Linked DNA regions of Homo sapiens. The protein of the gene in region 2 interacts with the protein of the main gene of each other region in a pairwise test. Each region holds a gene or a part of one and is shown on either strand. Other genes may lie near its edges. The genes, in order: UQCRC1, PFDN2 and PFDN1.

Evidence for each region.
Region 1: the proteins of PFDN2 (region 2) and UQCRC1 interact in binary tests that used the Homo sapiens proteins (3 or more experiments, as listed by UniProt).
Region 3: the proteins of PFDN2 (region 2) and PFDN1 interact in binary tests that used the Homo sapiens proteins (3 or more experiments, as listed by UniProt).

Annotation. Positions count from the first base shown.
Region 1 is NC_000003.12:48,603,088-48,606,740, forward strand, and holds part of UQCRC1 (cytochrome b-c1 complex subunit 1, mitochondrial precursor), read right to left. Parts: intron 2,770-3,653; coding exon 2,683-2,769; intron 2,064-2,682; exon of another isoform or gene 1,833-2,063; intron 1,694-1,832; coding exon 1,564-1,693; intron 1,345-1,563; coding exon 1,146-1,344; intron 557-1,145; coding exon 477-556; intron 1-476. UniProt on the Homo sapiens protein: Component of the ubiquinol-cytochrome c oxidoreductase, a multisubunit transmembrane complex that is part of the mitochondrial electron transport chain which drives oxidative phosphorylation.
Region 2 is NC_000001.11:161,111,422-161,115,074, reverse strand, and holds part of PFDN2 (prefoldin subunit 2), read left to right. Parts: intron 1-3,653. UniProt on the Homo sapiens protein: Binds specifically to cytosolic chaperonin (c-CPN) and transfers target proteins to it. Binds to nascent polypeptide chain and promotes folding in an environment in which there are many competing pathways for nonnative proteins.
Region 3 is NC_000005.10:140,282,450-140,286,102, forward strand, and holds part of PFDN1 (prefoldin subunit 1), read right to left. Parts: intron 1-3,653. UniProt on the Homo sapiens protein: Binds specifically to cytosolic chaperonin (c-CPN) and transfers target proteins to it. Binds to nascent polypeptide chain and promotes folding in an environment in which there are many competing pathways for nonnative proteins.

The DNA.
Region 1 (3,653 bases), on a different chromosome or scaffold from region 2:
TCTGTTCAAACTACAGGTGCTTTAAAAAGCCCCTCCCCCAAACTCCAACTCTGAGTCCCCAGTGAAATCTTCCCCACCCTTCTGTGCCTTCCTTTCAAGGCACTTCTTGGTTTGTTATCAGGCATGCATCAACACACAACTAATGGCTGGCTCTCCCAAGGGCAAGGCCACAAGGAACAAGGCCAGGAGCTTACATCCCCTACCAGCCCATGAACTCAGTATCCTAGAACCAGGTGGGGCTAAGACAGACCTGTACCAGAGGGACAGCATCCTGTGTAACCAGTCCCAGTGGTGGCGGCAGGGTAGAATCCTATCCCACCTCAGAGAGCACAGGAGGAAGGTCATTCCCCTCAAGGTTAGGGTGGGAGCAGAGTCCCCTGGGGTGAAAGGTCCCCTATGGTGGGAACCAGGACCTCGGCTTTGATAACCAAGGCTGGGACCCCACTACCCAGGACTTCAGTGATTCCATCACTCACCTCCAGCTGCTGCCAGCACCATTCGAGGGGCCTTGTAATGTGTGCTGAGGTACTCGGTCAAGTCTGCACGAGACAGCTTCCTACAAGACATATGGTCAGTGTGTCAACACCTCTACCACACTGGAGTGAGTTGGGGTACATGCATGAATGGGACTGAGGAGGCAGACTAGGAGAGGCATGGTTTCTCCGAAGAGTGGGCCCTAGCACACTCCCCAACCCCCTTCCCCTGTCTCTGCCACCCACCCCTCCAGGGCCCAGAGGGCAACCCTTGTCTGCCCTTGCCTCATGCCTGACTTCAGGACAGGCTCATAGTCTTCTCTGAGAAGGCGTGAGCCAACACTGTGGGACTCTCAAAAGGGCAGCATCAAAGCTCCCGGAGCCATCCACAAAGGAGACAAGAGACCACATGGAGGGGACACCCAGACACTTCGCCCTTGGACTGTCAGGACATGCACCAAAACATACCTTAAAACAAAGCCCAAAATTCAAGTGAAGCCCACAAAGCCATTAAAAAAGACTCACTGGACCACATGGATACAGAAACTGTCTCCAGTTGCATAACTCAGGAAAATAACCCCGACAGCTAGCCAACTAAAAATGTGACCTGGAAAGGGTCTGGCCAGGCCAGAATGGAGCAAGCATCCCCCCACAAGGCCAGCCAACTCTCACCTGACATTCTCACTGGGCCCCTCCACAGCCTGGGCTAGAGGTGTGCCCTGGAATGCTGTGGCATGCAGGTAGTTAAAGACCACATCTCGCATAGATGCATCATTCTCCTGCATCTCCCGCAGGATCACATCACGTTCCTTCTCAATCTGTGAGTCTTCCAGACTACAGTTCTGCACAATGTCACCCAGGAGCTCCACAGCTAGATGCAAGGAGGACATGTTTAGGTGCCAGGTGGACCACTGCAGACCAACGACAGCACAAAATCCCCAGGCCTGGCATCTCCTGCTGCCCACCCCTAGTTGCCCAGCTGCAAAGCCATACGCTAAGGGTAATATGATTCTGTGGTCAGCCAGGGGCTCCTAGGTAGCTGTCCTCTGCTTCCCTGCCCTCTGTCCCCGCCTCTTCCTCCAGGTGTTACCTTTCGGCAGATCCTTGGACAGCGCCTTGATGTAGTAAGCTGTGTGCTCCCGGGTGCTGTAGGCATTAAGATGGGCCCCCATGCTCTCCACCTCCTTCTCCAGGGCACTGCCAGGCCGATTCTTTGTTCCCTGGAACCAGATATCAACCAGAACAATCAGGAGCTACACAGGAACCCAAGAACCCTGTCCTCAGAGGCTAAACACCCAGCAGGACCACTGGTCCACAGGTACCTCCCTCAGCATAGACTCTGGGGACACAGATCCCAGAGTCTGTTTACCAAGCACTAAGCAGGCCTTGAGGTGACCAAAACCATGGCATCATGCGCCAACAGAACAGAGATAGCCAGGGCCAGGACTGAAGGGCATGGCCAGAGCAAGTGTTGCCTAAAGCTCCTGTAACAGCTTACCAACAAGCTGTGGGGATCATTACCAGTACACCTCCCCCCTCCTTATTGACAGCCATGGTCAGGTAAGCCCACACCTGTGTTCAAGTGATAGAACCCACTCCTCCCATGCCATTCCCATGACTGTATGTTTGTGAATACATGCTAGTGGCCTCTGTGGGACCCAATCCTAGTCCTGTGTGTGGAGAACAGTGGTGCTATCTCTTGGTGTGCACACACACGTTAATTCTGCACACATACCTGTGACATTGCAGCTGGCTAGGTTGCCTACTATGGCTCCATGGCCCTGCCCACCCCATAATCCTTCTCCATGTTTTTCATTCCTTTAAAAAACATGGGTCTTTACAACCAAGGGATGCCTAGATATTCCACCAGAGAAGAACATTTCATAAGCAAGCATGCATGCCCATGTCTGTGGGTTTGTTAAAATGCATGTGCATATCTACGTGTGTTCCACAGGCCTGGCTTCTCTGGTGAAAAGTGGGGCTCCTATGGTTCCTTGGGTCCTCTTGGCTCTGAGGGCCTCAGGCAGGGGCTCATCAGATACGTGCCCACTCAGGAGAGGTTAAGCTCATGTGGCTCCTTTTAGGAAAGCCAGCCAGACATCAGCCCCGCAACTGAGGCCCATAATCAGGCTAATTTTTCTGACCTTCATCCTCAGGAGGGACAACAGGCAGCCCTAAGCCCAGAGGAGACAGACTTTAAGAGCCTCACCTTGAAAGCCAGATGCTCCAAAAAGTAGCCTGCCCCATTATTCTTCTCAGTCTCAAAACGGCTGCCAACATCAATCCACACTCCCACCTGGTCAAGAAGCCACCAGAAAAGGTTACAAACAAACCACTCCCCAGCCCCCTACTCACACCCCACCTGAGTGACTCAGTACAAGCCCCAGGCAGGGACTTATGAATCCTGGAGTCAGGGAGAGCTGCCCCAGCAGGACCCCTGTGCTTGGGGACACAGTCATGCTTGGAAAACAGGGGCAGCCGAATGACTCGTCACACCACATCATTGCTCTCCTGATTGGCTATCAAGGACCCACAGGGACACTTCTAACTGTGCACATTTACCTGGTCTCACCAGCATACAAATCCTTAAATTCACTCTCAATTTTCAGTTAATTATTTGTTTTTGTCTAAGCATACAACATATCATTTGCAAATAACAACTTATTTTTTCCTTTCTAAAAATTACACGCTGCCTTTGTTCTGGCAATGATTTTATCCTTTCATCATTAAGGAAGGGACTATTGGTTTAGACTGTATATTTTATCACACTAAATATTGTTCCTATAATATCTTTTTTGTTGTTGTTTTTAATCAGCTCTGAACACCAAACAGTGTTGCCTTGGCACCCAATAAGGTAATATTAATTTTCTTGACAGCCTCCTGGTTGCTGTGAAACACGCACCACAGGCTGGGCGCGGTGGCTTATACCTGTAATCCCAGCACTTTGGGAGGCCAAGGCAGGTGGATTACGAGGTCAGCAGTTCGAGACCAGCCTGGCCAATATAGTGAAACCCTGTCTCTACTAAAAATACAAAAATTAGCCAGGTGTGGTGGCACGTGCCTGTAGTCCTAGCTACTTGGGAGGCTGAGGCAGAATTGCTTGAACCCAAGAGGCAGAGGATGTAGTGAGCCAAGATCGTGCCACTGCACTCCAGCCTGGGTGACAGAGAGACTCCATCT
Region 2 (3,653 bases):
CAAACACACAAAAAGTATGAATTGTTTATTTCTGGAATTTTCCATTTATTTTCAGACATTGGATAACTCTGGATAATGAGAGACTATTGTACATGAAACAGACTTTGTCTTCAAATTGCTTTACTCAGACTCATTTGAGAAAAGACAAACCAAACAATAAAGATTTATAGTGTGCTGCACAATCCCTTCATTATGGCAGCAGAGGAGAGACCCCTAACTAATCACGAGGTTGTAGGATTGTGGGGGTAGGGGCTGGATAAGGGAAGCTGTGGTATAGTAGGGTGGCTAAGAGCATTCTTATGCACTAGGGTCAGACCTAAGTTTGAATTTCATTTCTACTATTTACTATTTATATATGACCTCCCATGAGTTACATCTTGGCCTCCCCCATCTGTAGAAACATAACAATACCTACCTCATCACTGAATTTAGAGTATTAGGCAAGACAATGCATGCGAAGTGTTTTGCACAGTGATTAGAATATAGTGTGTGTTTAGTAAATGCTAGTTAGCTTTTGTTTTCTAGAGGAGAAAAATCCTTCAGCTCAATTCTAAAGGATGAGAGAAGTTAGTCAAGCAAAGAAGGAAGTGGAAGATTTTCTAGGTAGAGGGAATAAATGTGTTCCAAAACACTAAGGCGTGAAACTGCCTGGCATGTTTGGGATGCAGGTGGGACTTAATGTTTGAGGTGGATTACAGAACTTGAATATGGAGAAAAGGGGGTAAAAGAGGAATATAAGATGTCTCTCAGGTTTCTGTCTTTGGTGGATAATGGTGCCATAAGGAATGTAGGAAGACAGACAATTTTGGGGGAAATGTAAGTTTATTTTAGGATTTTGAGTTTAGGTTTCTTGTGGGACACCCAGGTTAAACATTCAGTAGACACTTTGATTTTTAAATCTTGAGATACAGTAAGAAATCTGAGTTGGAGATACAGATTTGAGAATTGAGTTTATGGATGATAAAGCCGTGGTTATGGATAAAAATGATCACTTTCCATAGTTTGTACAGAAAGTGAAAAAAGAAGTAGAACAAGAGTGGAACCACTGTTTTAGGGGAGCTAAAGAGAACCCCTCAAACTTCCCTCAGGAAACTGAGGAAGTGTGATAAGTGAGTTTTGAGGCTGTTCCTTGATTAACATTCTCTTGCCTTTGTTTATTCTGGAGAGAACACTGGGTAAAACATTACAAGATTTATCACTGCTGCAAATTTGAGCCACATATGTCCCTTACAAACAAGATGGAAGCAAATAACACATTGTGTTAGACACTTGTTTTACCTTCTGTTACTGACTGAGACAGGGTCTCATTCTGTTGCCCAGGCTGGAGTGCAGTGGTGCGATCACGGCTCACTGCAGCCTCAACCTCCCAAGGCTCAGGTGATCCTTCTACCTCAGCCTCCCAAGTTACTGGGACTACATGCGTGTGCCACCCTGCCCAGCTAATTTTTGTATTTCTTGTAGAGATGGAGTTTTGCCATGTTGCCCAGGCTGGTCTTGAACTCTTGGGCTCAAGCAGTCCACCTGCCTTGGCTTCCCAAAGTGCTAGGATTACAGGCATGAGCTGAGCCACCGCTCAGGCCTACCTTCTGTTATTCAATTACTGCCATTTGAAGTAGGTTGTGTTGTCCTCCATTTATAGGTGAGGACATTTTAATTTCAGAGGCTTTAGTTAACTTGCCCAAGGTCAGTAACTGGAAGAGCAGGATTTTTAAATGAGGGACTTAAGAATCAGGTATTTTTTTCACTTATGCCATGATTATGTTAGAGGTATTTGAGCAGAACCCTGAAGGAGTGGATGGATTTGAACAGGTAGCAGTGGGAATAGAAAGTAGGGAATATGATAAGAGGAGAGTAGTTGAATAAGGCCATAGAGGTCTTTGAGTGCATGCCAAAGAATTTATGACTTTTTAACATAAGCAGTGAGGAAGTCACAGAAGGATATATGTTATATTATTAATTGTTTAACTCTTATATAAAATAATACATTTATTGTCGGAACTGCAGAAAACAAAGGAAAAAGTTCAAACCAGGAAATAAATTGCCCATAATCCAACTATCCAGAGATAACTTTTCTTGCCATTTAGGAGTATATCCTTTGAGAGATTTTTTCCCCCCTCCTTTGTCTTTTTGTGTATATATGTGTGGATGGAAGGGGGAGCTTTTTTTTTTTTTTACATATTTTATAAAATTAGGATTATACTACAGTATGTACTGGTTTGTAATCTGTTTTTTAAGCCTAATAGTATATGTTGAACATTTTTCTATGTCATCTAAGTGTTAGGAAGATTAAATTAGCAGTGTGTAGGGTAGGTTTGGGGAGTCTAAAAATAGGATCATTTAGAAGACTATTGCAGTAATTCAGATAAGAATGTAATGAACATCTGAACTAGGGTTATGTCAGTGAGCCTAAGAGAAATTGCTAAACTAAGTGCAATACATTTGGCAGTTCATGGGATTATGGTATGTTCAAAGATGAACCTGGGTATGGTGGCAAGTGCCTGTAGTCCCAGCTACTCAGGAAGCTGAGACAGGAGGATCACTTGAGTCTGGGAGTTTGAAGCTATAGTGTGCTATAATTGTGCCTGTGAATAACCACTTTTCACCAGTCTGAGCAGCATAGGGAGACCCCATCTTTAAAAACAAAACAAAAGATGAAACTAAGGTTTCCTACCAGGAGGCCTAGAGTGATGTCAGTAGCAGAAATAGAAGAGATAAGATCACTTCAGCTTTGAACAACATGAGTTTAAGATATCCATGGGACATTTAGGTGGAGATGATCTGTAATAATAGCAGCTACTATTTATTGAAAACTTGTTATATGATAGATATTGTCCTAAGTTCTTGATGTAATTACTTAATCCTTACAACATTCTGTGAGGCAGGTATTATCTGTATTTTATTGGTGAAGAAACATCAGAAAAGAAGTAATTAATACTTATGCATTCTGTGAGACAGGTATTAATCTGTATTTTATTGGTGAAGAAACATTCAGAAAAGAAGTAACTTGTCATGGTCTGACGTTAAGCCATTTCTGTCAGGCACAAAAAAGCTCCTTCCTCTAACTTGTAAATGTGGGACTAGAATTTCTGAAAAGGCCTGGTTTTGCAGGCAAGTAGAATAAAGGCAATTGCTGGAACTATAGAAGTAGCTAAGAATGCCACTTGAAATAGTATAGGTTACCCTGATTTGATTATATGAATATATCAAATTATCACAATACCATGAAAATATGATTATGAATCAATAAAAAATAATTTCAAAAATAATGTAGGTAATGAAGAAGTGCTATGAATAGAATCTTAGATCCTGTGGCCATTGTGGGAGTGAAAGAGGAAGAACTTTCAGAAAGGAGAAAGAAGGAGGCTTGAGATAGGAAGGAGAACTGAAGGGACCTGGAAACCAAAGGGGAGTCGAAGATCTACATTGTATCGGGCACTTGACCTATTATCTCAGTTAGTTCTCATTGTTACCCTGTAGCAGTGATTCTCAACTGGCATTATCTTTTCCTAGGAGACATCTGGCAGTGTCTGGAGACATTTTTGGTTGTCACAAATCAAAGGGGTTGCTACTGACTTTTAGTGGGTATAGTCCAGGGATTTGTTAAACATCCTATAATGCCTGAGACAGCCCTCCTAGCAAAGAATGATTTGGCC
Region 3 (3,653 bases), on a different chromosome or scaffold from region 2:
GTCACAATCAAGCACTGTGTTAGGATCAATGCATTAGTGTTTATATGAGTTCCTCAAACAAAAAGCACTGTATAAGCCTTAGTATCTTTTATTATTATTTCCAGAGTGTATATAGTACCTCTGAAAAGCTCAAAATGTACAAGTGGAAATTTTCAACTTTTTCCATTTTACATCAGGCACATTATTTACCACTGATGAGGGTGGAAATATGGAGAAGTTTTAAAAATTAACACTGAAACTGTTTTATGACTTTATGTTCACAATTCTTGCTTCAGGGAAAGGAAGAACAAACTTTTATAGCCCCAAGTAAGTGAACTGAAATATTTCCCCTCCACTGGAACCAAGGGAAGACCCCAGTTATGCAAATCTCTTTCAGGACTGTCTAAGGAAGCTAAAATATATTTCAATTTAATATTGCAATTAATTAAGCAAGATTTTTCTTCTCTTTGCACTAACAGAGTTCAGCAACAAAGAACTAAACATCATCTCTTAACAAAAAGTCAAACGAGAAAACACATCAAGGTAGCAACATGCAGTTTCCTCTGCCAACCCCACAAAAACATCATTGTGCCTAGGTGGGTTCTTATCAAGAGAGTCCGTTATTATAGATATAAGACAAGTAAAAACAGACCAAAAAGGGCAATTAGCTATGCCCCAACACCTGGAAGGAAACTGCCTTGTCCCCTCTTCTTCATAACTAAGCCTTACCACACATATTAATAAAATCTGAAGAACTTCTTTTACTCCACTAATTATTAAGCTTATATCCTAATGCGGCCAGCCCAGATAATTTTTTTTTTTGAGACGGAGTCTCGCTCTGTTGCCCAGGCTGGAGTGCAGTGGCATGATCTTGGCTCACTGCAAGCTCCACCTCCCGGGTTCATGCCATTCTCCTGCCTCAGCCTCCCGAGTAGCTGGGACTACAGGCGCCCACCACCACGCCTGGCTAATTTTTTCTATTTTTTAGTAGAGACAGGGTTTCACCATGTTAGCCAGGATGGTCTCGATTTCCTGACCTCGTGATCTGCCCGCCTCGGCCTCCCAAAGTGCTGGGATTACAGGCATGAGCCACCACGCCCAGCCCAGCCCAACTGATGATCTTAGTCTTCAGTAGTAACTTGATTCTTTGTAAAACCTTACTGTATATTTACAGGAAAGAGAGCCCACATTCATGCAAAACAAGGATTAATTCCAGGTCTTTTACTATAGAACCCTTCATGTCTAAAATATTCTTACTGGATCCAAGAGATGGGTGCTATTTCAGATAAGATTATGGTTTACAGAATATTTTTCTCAGAACTAACTCATATTTGTATTTGAAGAGAAGAGTTGTTTTGAACAGTACTAAGTCTCAGTAATGTTATGTAAAAACTATTCTAAAACAAGGTGCAAGAGTCACCAAATTATGTCATGACATGTGTGATTTTACTGAGAAAGTCTTTTAGCCATGGAAATAATTTTTTGAGTAAAATATACATTTTTAAGTAGCACTGATAGCTGGCCAATGAGTACTATTCTCAAATAAAAGGTCATCAGACATCATCTTTATTAGTGTCTGGGAAAATTTCAAAGCTAAGATTAGAGGTCAAGTCATTACTTATGTGGCCTTTAAAAATAAAGTATCTGAACAGATACTAAATCTCTTGAGCAGAAAATAAAATTACTAGAAAGCAAGAACACTCAACAACAAAAACACGTTTTTCCATGACCACATATCCTTTGAGGTAGCTATACTGGACTGTGCCAACTTCAAAGGCCAGAGAGATTCCACCGAAGCTGGCCAACTTACTACTACAAACCTAAGGACATCTCAGCCACGCAAGTTTTAACAAGGATGAATGTTGGGTAAATGCAAATGTCTACCTCAAAGAGTAGTTACACAGTAAAAATTCAAACACAAAAACTTATGGAAAGTTTGGTTTAGTCCTCAATTTAAAAAATGGCAAAGATATATTGTATGAAGACTGGAAAAGGCTCCAAGAAACATCTGATTTCTGAAAAAAAGTCTTTGGAAAACATCTTTCTTATTGTTTAAAAGGGCATTGGATTATCAGATACTATGTGAAGAGAAAGGATTTATCATGATAATATAAGTCTTATCATAAGCAAATATTATGTACACAGTTGCTCAATGTAGAGAATCTCATAGTCATTCTGCCTGATTGTTTATGGAAAGCCAAATAGTAAATAAAGAATTCTGGAGTTCAAAATGTACCAATAAGGAAAAATAAACCATGAAGAGGGAAAGTATTCTCTCATGACAAATAATATGCAGATAACATGCTTAAAATACTCAGGATTATATAACCTGAATTCGAGTTGATGCTTTGCAAAAGGCCTCTTCTTTGACCTGGAAATCAGTGCCACGTGCCTCTGCACTGTCCACTCTCAAGGACTTGTAACCTGCTATTTCACTTCCTCATTTATTTGTAATTATGCCATCTGAAAACATAATTCTGAGACTTTCGGTTTTGATTATTTGAGAAACATCAGACTCCGTTTTCTAAATCATCCTGCAGTTTGGTACAACTTCCACTTTCTTATAACTCAGTATGAATCAAAACCATTGTTCACCTGCCCAAAACACAATCCCAGATCACTTGCACTGCTGCATTTTGGACACAATTTCCAAAGTATGGTCACCTAGACATATGCTATTCAGAAACAACAAAATGCTTATGACGAGTTCACTTTGGGTGGGAAATTTTTAGAGGGTGTCTAAAAACGTATCCTATTAGCATTTAGGTTTCAGGGTATTCACAAATTAAGCAGCATAGAAAAGACATAAGAATGAGCCTATCTTCAGGAGAATGGCGTGAACCCGGGAGGTGGAGTTTGCAGTGAGCCGAGATCGCGCCACTGCACTCCAGCCTGGGCAACAGAGCGAGACTCCATCTCAAAAAAAAAAAAAAAAGAATGAGCCTATCTTGCTTCTTTGCCTAACTCCACTGGTGAGGAAAGTTACTGAATTTTTACGTCGTAATTTTTAGCGTGGAAGCAAGTAGAAATAAATTGAACTTCTTTTTTTAAAATTTTTTTAAATTGAATTTATTTCTTACTTTAATCACTTCCTTAGTAAGGAAGTGATTAAAACTTTATGGCACATCCACATTGTGGACTGCTCAGTGAGTTACAGACTTCTGTTATTGGCATAATGAAGAGTAGATACCCTGAACACTCCTGATTAGAAACAAAGGAAAAAAAAATTTTTTTTTAACATTTTGTTGAACTAACACAAAAGGAAGGATTCCACAAAGGTCCAAAGTGAAGTGAAACTGGGAATTCAGGAATGTAAGACAGCAGTAAATTGGCTTTCATCCTGAGAGTTTATGCTGAATCCTGGAGACCTTAAGTATCCACACTGGCACAGAAATAGGATACAAAACAGGAGATAAAACCAAGGGGGCAGCCAGGCATAATGGCATGCACCTGTAGTCCTAGCTACTCAGAAAGCTGAGGTGTGAGGATTGCTTAAATCCAAGAGTTCAAGTCCAGCCCAGGCAACATAGCAATGCCCCATGTCTAAAAAATAAATAAATTTTTTTAAAAAAGAATGACTAATTAAATAAAAAACCAAACCGAAATTTAAAAAAAAATATTTTTTTTATTGACATGTAAAGATGTCAATATAGTAAGTTAGTAAGTAAGTAAAA